2 separate regions of the Homo sapiens genome follow, and region 1 is linked to region 2. The links come from fine-mapping of genetic effects on gene expression. A gene starts in region 2. The other region holds a variant in brackets. All regions are shown on one strand. Distances are from middle to middle. Region 1 overlaps ABHD2 (abhydrolase domain containing 2, acylglycerol lipase). Region 2 holds the start of ABHD2 (abhydrolase domain containing 2, acylglycerol lipase).

Region 1 (4,390 bases), 50 kb after region 2:
CATTGCTCTCCAGCCAGCGCAGCTCCTAGTTGATTAGCGTGTTCTTAAAAGAGCATTCTGTGTAGGTAATCCAGGGGCTTCACATTTAGGTATTTGAGTTTTCCTCCACTAGGAATAGTGGCAAATATAATGTGATTTTCCAGCTCTAATCTTCCCTCCCCATAACGCTGGCACAGATTTTGAGGTAGCCTTGGCCTGGGAAGTAGCCAAAAGGCACTGTGTTGGACAAAGAGCAGACCATTGGCATCTATGTGCATGTCCTCAGGAGAGAGGTGACTAGGCAGATGGGGACAAGACACGGGTGCTCTGTGTTCTGAGCGTCAGCGTACATCCTGTTTGGTTAGCACAGAGTGAGTCTGGGAACTTTGCACTTAGCACCTTGGCAGCCCAGGTCTGGGAATAGTGGTGCCTTCTCCTAAAGTTAGGTCACTAATCTTTGACTGGCTGTTTGCAGGACCAGTTCTCTAACGGATCCAGGGTTCCAGTGGAACCCTGGAGACTGGAACTCTGGAGCTTCTTAATAAACTGCCTCCCTACTTAAAGCATGGTGTCAAAACCAGGTTGAAATGCAACGTGAGGAGAGAGGACTGTGCTTTGGTGTGCCTAGGGAGGATGTGACCAGTTCCGCGTGCTGTTTGTGAACAGGAAGATAGTGGGATCAGATGCATTTAACATGTGGATACAGTTCTGAGGGGTTTTAACTGGTTTTCTTTGAACTTTAGAAAAGCACATTTATTTTTCCTTGGAGCAAAAAAGTAGTTTCTTTTTAAGTGGTTTTATTGTAACTCATGGGGCTGTTCTCCTAACATTCATATTTTATAGTTTGCACGATATGCACAAAGGTCACAGATGTACCAGCCTGGCCCAGTGGCCTCCGTCCTGTATTTAGAAACCAGTTCGGGAACGGAAGAGGATTGCTCTTTTGTTTCCTCAGGCCACTTTTGGTCATTTCAGGCAGAAACAGTCTCTGCATTGGAATTTTCCTGTGCAGATCCTGCAATTCAGGAATAGAGCATTTAGCAACAACAGTGAAAATGTAATGTGTGACAGCTGTGGAGAAGAATTTGCCTCCAGTGAGGGGAAAATGCTGTGTTCAAAGTGGATTTCTGATGAGCCTATTAATGGGTGTTTGGGAAGCTGAATATGTTGCTGCCATTTTGAGATGAAAGGCCCAAGGTGTTTGTTCCTGAAGCTAATGAGGAAGCCCTTTCCCAGCCTCAGCCTTACCTCCCCAGTAGGACTGGTGAGATGTGCACACAGGGTCTACTCCACATCTGGCCCTCCTGAAAAGAAGGGCTTCCAGTGGGGGCTGTGTCCTAGTGGAGAAGGGTGAAGCCCAGTGGGATGGGCTCACGAAGGACCTGCTGTTGACCTGCTGGCTTCAGGTCCACCAGGCTAGGGGTAGATAGGCCAGAAAAGAAACCAGAGGTGTCTGTGGTAGGAGCAGCAAGGGCCCTGGCTTCCAGGCCTGTGGAGCAGGGAGGCTCTGGCAGTTCAGGATCTGGAAAAGAACTGACAAAATGTTCTCCTAAACTCTGGCCCTTGCCGGCTTCCTTACCTTTCCTGTGTGCACACACATGCATGCACATGCACATGTGCACACACAGGAAGGCCTGGAACTCAGTTTGCAGACTCGTGGAGCTGCCACAAAGCTTCACTCCCAGTGTTTCCCCCACCACTGATGCTTGTCCTCCTGGGTTTATTCTCACCCATGAAAGTAGGGTAAAAATGTATCCCCAAATCAAACACCTGTCACCTTTCTAGAAGCACTTCCATCCTCTCTTGCTCTCACTGTCATCGCTCTCCTGGATCTTTGGGGAGATATTCAGTATGATTTTGTTAACATTCTGGCCTTATCTTAGAGATAATTAAATGTGAATATTCAAATTAATTAGCCCCCAGATGTATCTTCTGCAGAAAAAAACTCCTCTAACAAGAAGTCAGTTACAGTTGTGAGAAACATGCAAAACGAAAGAAATGTTTTTTTTCAAAGACCTGTGAAGACCACTGTAGAGAAGCTCCAACAAATTCAGTTTTCAATTTGAAGAAACATTATTTAATATAGAACATTTTGACAGTTGATCAGACAGGAGAAAATAGGCACAAAGCTGTTATTTTAACTTCTGGTTGGGGGAGTTGATGAGTCTTGAGTGTGATAAAGTAAGGAACGCTTTGGACTGAATCAGAGACCTGTCCTCTAATCCTAG[CT/C]TTTTTTTTTTCTTTTTTTTTCCTCATTTTTAAAACGGGGAAGACACCATTGCTCAGAATTGTGAAGATTAAGCTAGAAGGCCGGGCAGGATGGCTCACTTCTATAATTCCAGCACTGTGGGAGGCTGAGGTGGGAGGATTGCTTGAGCCCGGGAGATCAAGACCAGCCCTGGCGACATAGCAAGACCCTGTCTCTACAAAAAAAAATTAACTGGGCATGGTGGCATGTGCCTGTGGTCCCAGCTACTCAGGCGGCTGAGATGGGAGGATTGCTTGAGCATGGGAGGTTAAAGCTGCAGTGAGCCGTAGTTGTACCACTGCACTCCAGCCTGGGTGACAGAGTAAGACCTTGTCTCTAAAAATAAGTAAATAAATAAACTAGAGACATGACTCACCCAGCTCCTGATGGAGAGATTTGGTGCTCAGAAATATCTCTCCTCTCTGAGATCTTGGTACTCCCCATGATGCACTAAGTGAAATTGGTACTTCTCAGCCTCATGATTGTCTCCCCATAGTATCATCCTATTCTATCTCTCTGACCCCATTGCCCACCGCTCCTGTCTGTGACAGTAGCTGCCTGTGTATTCATCATGCATCCTACCTTCAGATTACGAATGCCACCAGGGCGGTCACTGTGTCCGGCTCTAATCTCTGTATGCCTCACAGCACTCGTATTTGTTGAATTTTATTAAATCAATATATAAGAGCCAAAATAAAATATAGGTAGAGGCAGGTTCGGACCTGATAACATCTTTGGTTTGGCCCCAGGTGCCAGCAGCACACTCCTAGTTGGGCATCCTCAGTCCATGTTGTCACTCTGAAAACAAATCTGTTTGTCAGAGTAAAGGTCACCTTTTTTTCTCAGTGGACAAATATTTTTTTCTGAAATGAAAAATTTGCTTTTCTTCCCTTGAGTGTGTGCACTCAAGTAAGCAGAGTGGAGGGCCTGTGAAGATGGGCATTCTCTCTGGAAACTGAGGAAACATCCCGAGCCTATGTCTCCTAACAGTCTTGGCACCTAACTAGAATCTGACCGGAGTTTCAGCACGCAGCCAGCAGAGGACATCACCAGCCATTTGAGTGTGCAGTTGTCTGGAGCAGCCACGCAGCAGGTCTCTGTAGCCCTGATGGAGAGAGTTTTCTTCTTGGGAGGGCTTCCCAGGATGATGTAACACCTCTGCGTTTTGCCTCAGTGGCTGAAGAGTCCCTTTGGACTTGGGTTTTGCAGAAAGAGAGGGGAGTCTGAGGGCAGAGTGTAAAGTGACACAGCCGGTGTGTAGAGCTGAGCAGCCTGTGTTAGGAACAGTCAGAGCCTGTGGACTTGTGAGGCTTCCACTCACGTGCTATGTTAGCAGTTCTTTTCCTCAAGCTCTACTGAAAGACCTGTGGACCTGACATTTTATGGTCACAAGCCCTGGAGAAGATAGCCATTCATTTTGCTGGATGACCTTTTAAATAAACCTCTAGAGTAAGTTCCAGGCAAATACTGGAGGTGGCTGTGTTTGCCCAACAGAATCCAGCAAAAACACTTCTCTGTGCTTGAAATTCCTTCTTGTACCTGATGCTTTGGAATTTAGGCAGGTGATAAATTAAAGATGAATTTCTTCTTTTTTTTTAACGTTACAATATAGTTAGCTATTATCTTGATATGCTTTCTAATATATAATGGAGTTACATATGTACATTTAACTTATGCAAATTCAACTCTACAGATTGAGAGAGAGACCCCCACACACACACAGACACACACATACACACACCACCTTATTTGTGCTGACCCTTCTGCCAGCTTCTCCATTCAAAGGAGCACAGGCCCCCCCTGTGTGTGATCTGGGAGCCTCACGTCACCTCTGCTGGTACCAGGGCCTGTGTGTCTCTCCTGCGAGAGAGAGCACCTTACTGTATCTTCACGTTTAAAGATGTGTTTTTGTTTTCCATTTCCTTTGTTTCACAACATGGCCTTAACCTCAAGCCACCAGTGCCATCTGTGCTTATCCACAGCCCCAGCCATCTTCGTGGCACTGAGGGAGAACTGCCTGGCTCCCTTTGCCCAGAGACAGTGTGTTACTAAGGGATGCTCAGGGCATAACTTTATTATAGTTAATAGTTTAGTTTCACTTTTTTTTTTTTGTTGGACAGAGTCTTACTCTGTCACCCATGCTGGAGTGCAGTGGCCCGATCA
Region 2 (4,390 bases):
ATGCCCAGCTAATTTTGTATTTTTAGTAGAGATGGGGTTTCACCATGATGGCCAGGCTGGTCTGGAACTGCTGACCTCAGGTGATCCTCCTGCCTTGGCCTCCCAAAGTGCTGGGATTACAGGCTTGAGCCACTGTGCCCAGCCTATTTTTTAAATTATTATTAATTTTTAATTGACAAAATTTGTATATATTTATGATGTACAACATGCTTTACTTATTTATGTTTATCATGTTATTATGTTTATTTGTCAAACAAGGTCTCACTCTGTGGCCCAGGCTGGAGTGCAGTGGTGCGATCACAGCTCACTGCAGCCTCAACTTCCTGGGCTCAAACAACCCTCCTGCCTCAGCCTCCCCACTAGCTGGGACTACAGGCATGCACCACCACATCAGGCTAAATTTTAAATTTTTTGTAGAGACGGGGTCTCACTATGTTGCCCAGGTTGGTCTCAGACTCCTGGGCTCCGCCTCAGCTTCCCAAAATGTTGGATTACAGGCGTGAGCCACTGTACCGGTCCATGTTTTGATACATGTATACATTGTGGGATAGCTACACCAAGCTAGTTAACATATGCATTACCTTATATACTTATCTAGTGATAATCTAAAGCTCTTTTTTGGAAGTCCAAACTGTTTTAACTCAGAGTCAGGACGATGGGGTTCATCACTAAGAGACTTTGCTACTGAAGCCTGGGTTTTTCTTTTCCAAGATGAAAGAGAATACAGAGGAATATATAAACACTGAGATGAAACCTTTTTTTTTCAAGGTAACATGACAACTGAATGAAAAATAGAGCAATGGCAAAGGATTCTTTCTTCTCCTTCACTCTGATGTACCATGGCTGTGAGTTCTTTCAAAGACAGACACAAAGGGTCTGGGGCTACATTCAGGCCTGAGAAGCTATTTCTGTCCACACTCTGTGATGTCTACACCTTCAGAATGGGGAATGGGTTTCAGGGGTCTCTGACAGATAGAGCTCATGCAATGATTTCTGGTCCGGTGCTGATCAGCCTTCAAAGGATGTTATTTGGTTACGCTCCATAAAACTTGAGCCAGCCCACTGTTCCTTGTCACAACCTGAAATATGTTGGGAAAAATTTACATGGTAACAAATGCCACTTCCCTTCTCTGACTAAATCGCTCCTCTCATTTCATCCCCTGCTCCCTCTCTCCGAGCCCTATGGGGCCTTGGTAGGGTGGCCTTGTCTGCCCTACAGGGGTTGCATTTCAAGTCGCTCAAGTGTTCTATTCTTGGTACACGACATGCCATTGCAAAAGCAGTTTCAGGCTCATAGAATTTTAGAAATGGGCCTAGTTTCCCAGCCGGATGAGGTGAGTGGGTGATGGGGGAAGAATCAGCCTTGATTGAATGCCTGTTGAGTGCCAGCCACTGTTGGCATTTATCAGAGTTTATTTAATCTTCTCATCAACTACTATTGTTACCCTCAGTTGCCAAGTGAAGGGAGCATGCGGGAAGGTTAAGTGACTTGCCCAAGCCCACACAACCGGTAGGAGCCCCAATTCCAGGCCCTAGTTCCAAGGCTACATTCTTCCAGGCGGCCTCCAACTGGGTTGGTTAAGGGTTGAAAGGACAGTGGGACAATAACTGAGGCCCGTATTGCCCAGAGCGTCCCCATCCCCCGTCCGGAGCTGGAAGAGGCCATAGACCGCTGCCTCCACATCTTTTCCTCTCCTTCGGGTTCGGTGACTCACGACCCTTCTTCCTCTCTCCCGGGATATGACCTCAAATTTCACCCCTGCGAAATTTGAGTACACGTGAGTCAGTCAGTCGGCCTGGACCCATAAGAGCCCCAGCTGAGCTACCAGCAGCTGAGCTACCAGCCGACCTCATTCCTCTGAGCCCAGTCGACAGCTGACCTTACCCAGCCCTCTAAAGCAGTTTGCGGTCACAATTACCCGTCTCTTCACCCCGCCCCCATCGACATCAAACACGACCCACCTTCTAGCCCTCCTCCCCTTTCCCCGCCCACTCCGGGCTGGCCTTATCCAGTAGCGTCTGGGTCCCTGGACTAAAGCCGTCAAATGTAACCAATTGCTGAGGAGCTCTCCCCTAAGAATCCCGCCTCCACTCTGAGGAACAGCTTCGCTGATCAATGGATCCCCTCCTAGACGCAATGAGCGCGCGGGGCAAGTGGAGAAGCGGCTGAACTGCCCAATGAACAAGCGGTTTCCGTGGTTAGGGGCGTGGCAGAAGCGGTCGTCAGGGGCGTGGCGGCAGTTACTTGGGCGGGGCCGGTAGCGGCGGGAGCTGCACTGGCCAGGGGTTCCGGCTGTATATCCATGAGCGCCGCTGGCAGCCGGGGAGCTGCAGGAACCAGACTGGGGGCGAGCTGAGCACCTGTAGTCAATCACACGCAGGTAAAGCCACGGCCGAGCGAGCTCCGCGGAGCGGGGATCGCACCCCGGACCCGTCGAACCGAATCTCCGAGCCCCGAGGTCCCCGGCGTAGCTCGGCCCATCACGCCGCAGCCTGAGGGGATCCTGGGGGGCCTGTCATCTGGCGCCGTGGGGGTCCCAGGGGCTGGCTTGCCCAGTGGTGGGGACAGCCCAGATCGCGGCGGGGGATACGCCTTCCTGAGGCCCTTTGTCCCCTTCTGCCCGAGGAACCGAGGTTGGGGACAACCCCGACCGCGGCCTTTCCCCCATTGGTGCTCACTCCTGGGTCTTCAGGGGCCTGGGGAGGGGTCTGCCGGTTCAGGCTCGGCGAAGAAGGTCCGGGATCCGCACCTGGAAGGAGAGGGCCGAGGGGCCTGATTACAGCCCGAGATACCCGAGAGGCCTCTGTGTTTCGGGGCTCCAGGGGCTCACGCAGGACCAGTGGGTTTAAGTTCTAGAAAGGCAGCTTTTGACCCACTTGGAAGCACATTTACCGAGTTCGGCCCCGCGACCGGCACTGTTCTAGGCCCTTCGTGAGCTTTTCCCACAGCTAGAGCTGTCCAGCAGCGCAGGAGGCTGCCTGCCAGGCCGGGCAGCTAGCGCCTCGACCTTGGCGATGTCCAAGCAGTGGCCTGATGACAGCCACCTGTGTCGGATGCTTAGGACTCCCAAGGGAGGACTGCATGACCCATCTGTAAGGGCCTTCTCTACCCACAAATGCACTCTAAGTGGCCTTTGATGCCTAGCTTGAGAAGAGTACTTCTGGGGGTCCATTAGGTTCCAAGTGGCTGTTGAATTCACCCATAATGAATTTTGAGGTTTCAGCTCTCAAGAGTGGGTGTTAGCAAAGAGACTGGATTATACAAAAAGATAGAGGTTTATTTAGCCACTGTGAAACTCCTTGTATTTGAACTACCATGGACCGCTCTCTTAATCTTCCCAATCTCTCTTTTTTGGTTGCTGGACCTCCAGTTTGTCAGTTTCACCTGCATTCCAGTAACCAAATCCAAAGGCATGTTCCAAGAACAGGCTCCACAGAGGGACCTGGAGAGACTGCAGGTTTGGCAGAGTCAACAAGATCTGTGCCCAGAGCTTTTCGAAGGCCGTTTCCTTACAGCCACATTAAGCAGAGTCCAAAAGAGAAATCCTTCACTACCCTCTGTCATTTGCCGGAATAGAGAGAACATAATAATCTAAAGGTCAGGAGGCAGAGAAAGAATCTTAACACACCTTGCTGTGTGTTTTAGGATGAATTAATCTTTGAACATCTAGTCAGAAAGCAGTCCATATACAGCTGGTAGTCAGCACGGACTGTGACATTTTAGAGCTGAAGGCACCTTAGATAGAGCTCATCTCTATCTAAGTCTAATTAGGTGGACTCTCATTCAGTCTCCTCAATGCACAGGTGAGGAAACTGAGGCCTGGGGTGGTCACAGGGCTGGTTGGTCATCACAGGCCCATGACTAAGGGTTGATCTCTTGACTGTATTTAGATCTAGCCAGTGCATGACTTATTTCACTCCAAGCTTAGTTTGCCCATTCTCAGTGTTTTAAGTTCTAGGGGAGTCCAGAGAGGTTAGGAGGACAGATTTTGGTGCCTGAGTGCCTGGATTTGAATCCCAGCCCTGCCTCTTACTGGCTGTACAACCTTGGGCAAGCTACTTAACTTCTCTGTGCCTCTGTTTCCTCACCTCTAAAACAGAAATAATAATGATACTTATGTTAGAAGATTGTTTTGAGAAGTGCATGGAGTTACTACATCTGAAGCATTTAGAACAGTACCTGGCACAGGGTAAGCACAATAGATTTGCTAGATATGATATTCTGTTGCCTTTTTGTACATTTTTCTTCATATCCACCACCCAATACTCTATCAAGAGCTAATTTTTCCCCCAGTCCCCTTCCCCCCACCCCCAAATTCATTTAACATATTCCAGATTTCATTTTAACACAGACAGCTGCAAGGGGTTTCCAAGTCACGTTGCATTTTAT

The links. PIP is the estimated chance that this variant, and not a neighbour inherited with it, causes the effect.
Region 1: its variant is the best candidate, but not a certain one, in a credible set for the expression of ABHD2 in whole blood (INTERVAL, PIP 0.70).

The regions. Positions count from the first base shown.
Region 1 is chr15:89,136,647-89,141,036 of GRCh38, forward strand. All of the region lies in intron 3 of ABHD2 (abhydrolase domain containing 2, acylglycerol lipase), which reads left to right. It also overlaps the pseudogene HMGB1P8. Among named protein-coding and RNA genes, the nearest start is that of ABHD2, 50 kb to the left of the region's middle. RefSeq lists enhancers at 2,914-3,415, 3,416-3,915. The variant CT/C (reference allele first, on the strand shown) is at 2,208.
Region 2 is chr15:89,086,183-89,090,572 of GRCh38, forward strand. It overlaps ABHD2 (abhydrolase domain containing 2, acylglycerol lipase), which reads left to right and starts at 2,274. Exons shown (of 11, transcript NM_152924.5): 1 at 2,274-2,381. LOC124903573 reads right to left here. Exons shown (of 7, transcript XM_047433432.1): 5 at 2,653-2,750; 6 at 1,886-2,504; 7 at 1,379-1,759. The coding sequence ends at 1,545. RefSeq lists enhancers at 1,037-1,682, 2,293-2,472, 2,414-2,933.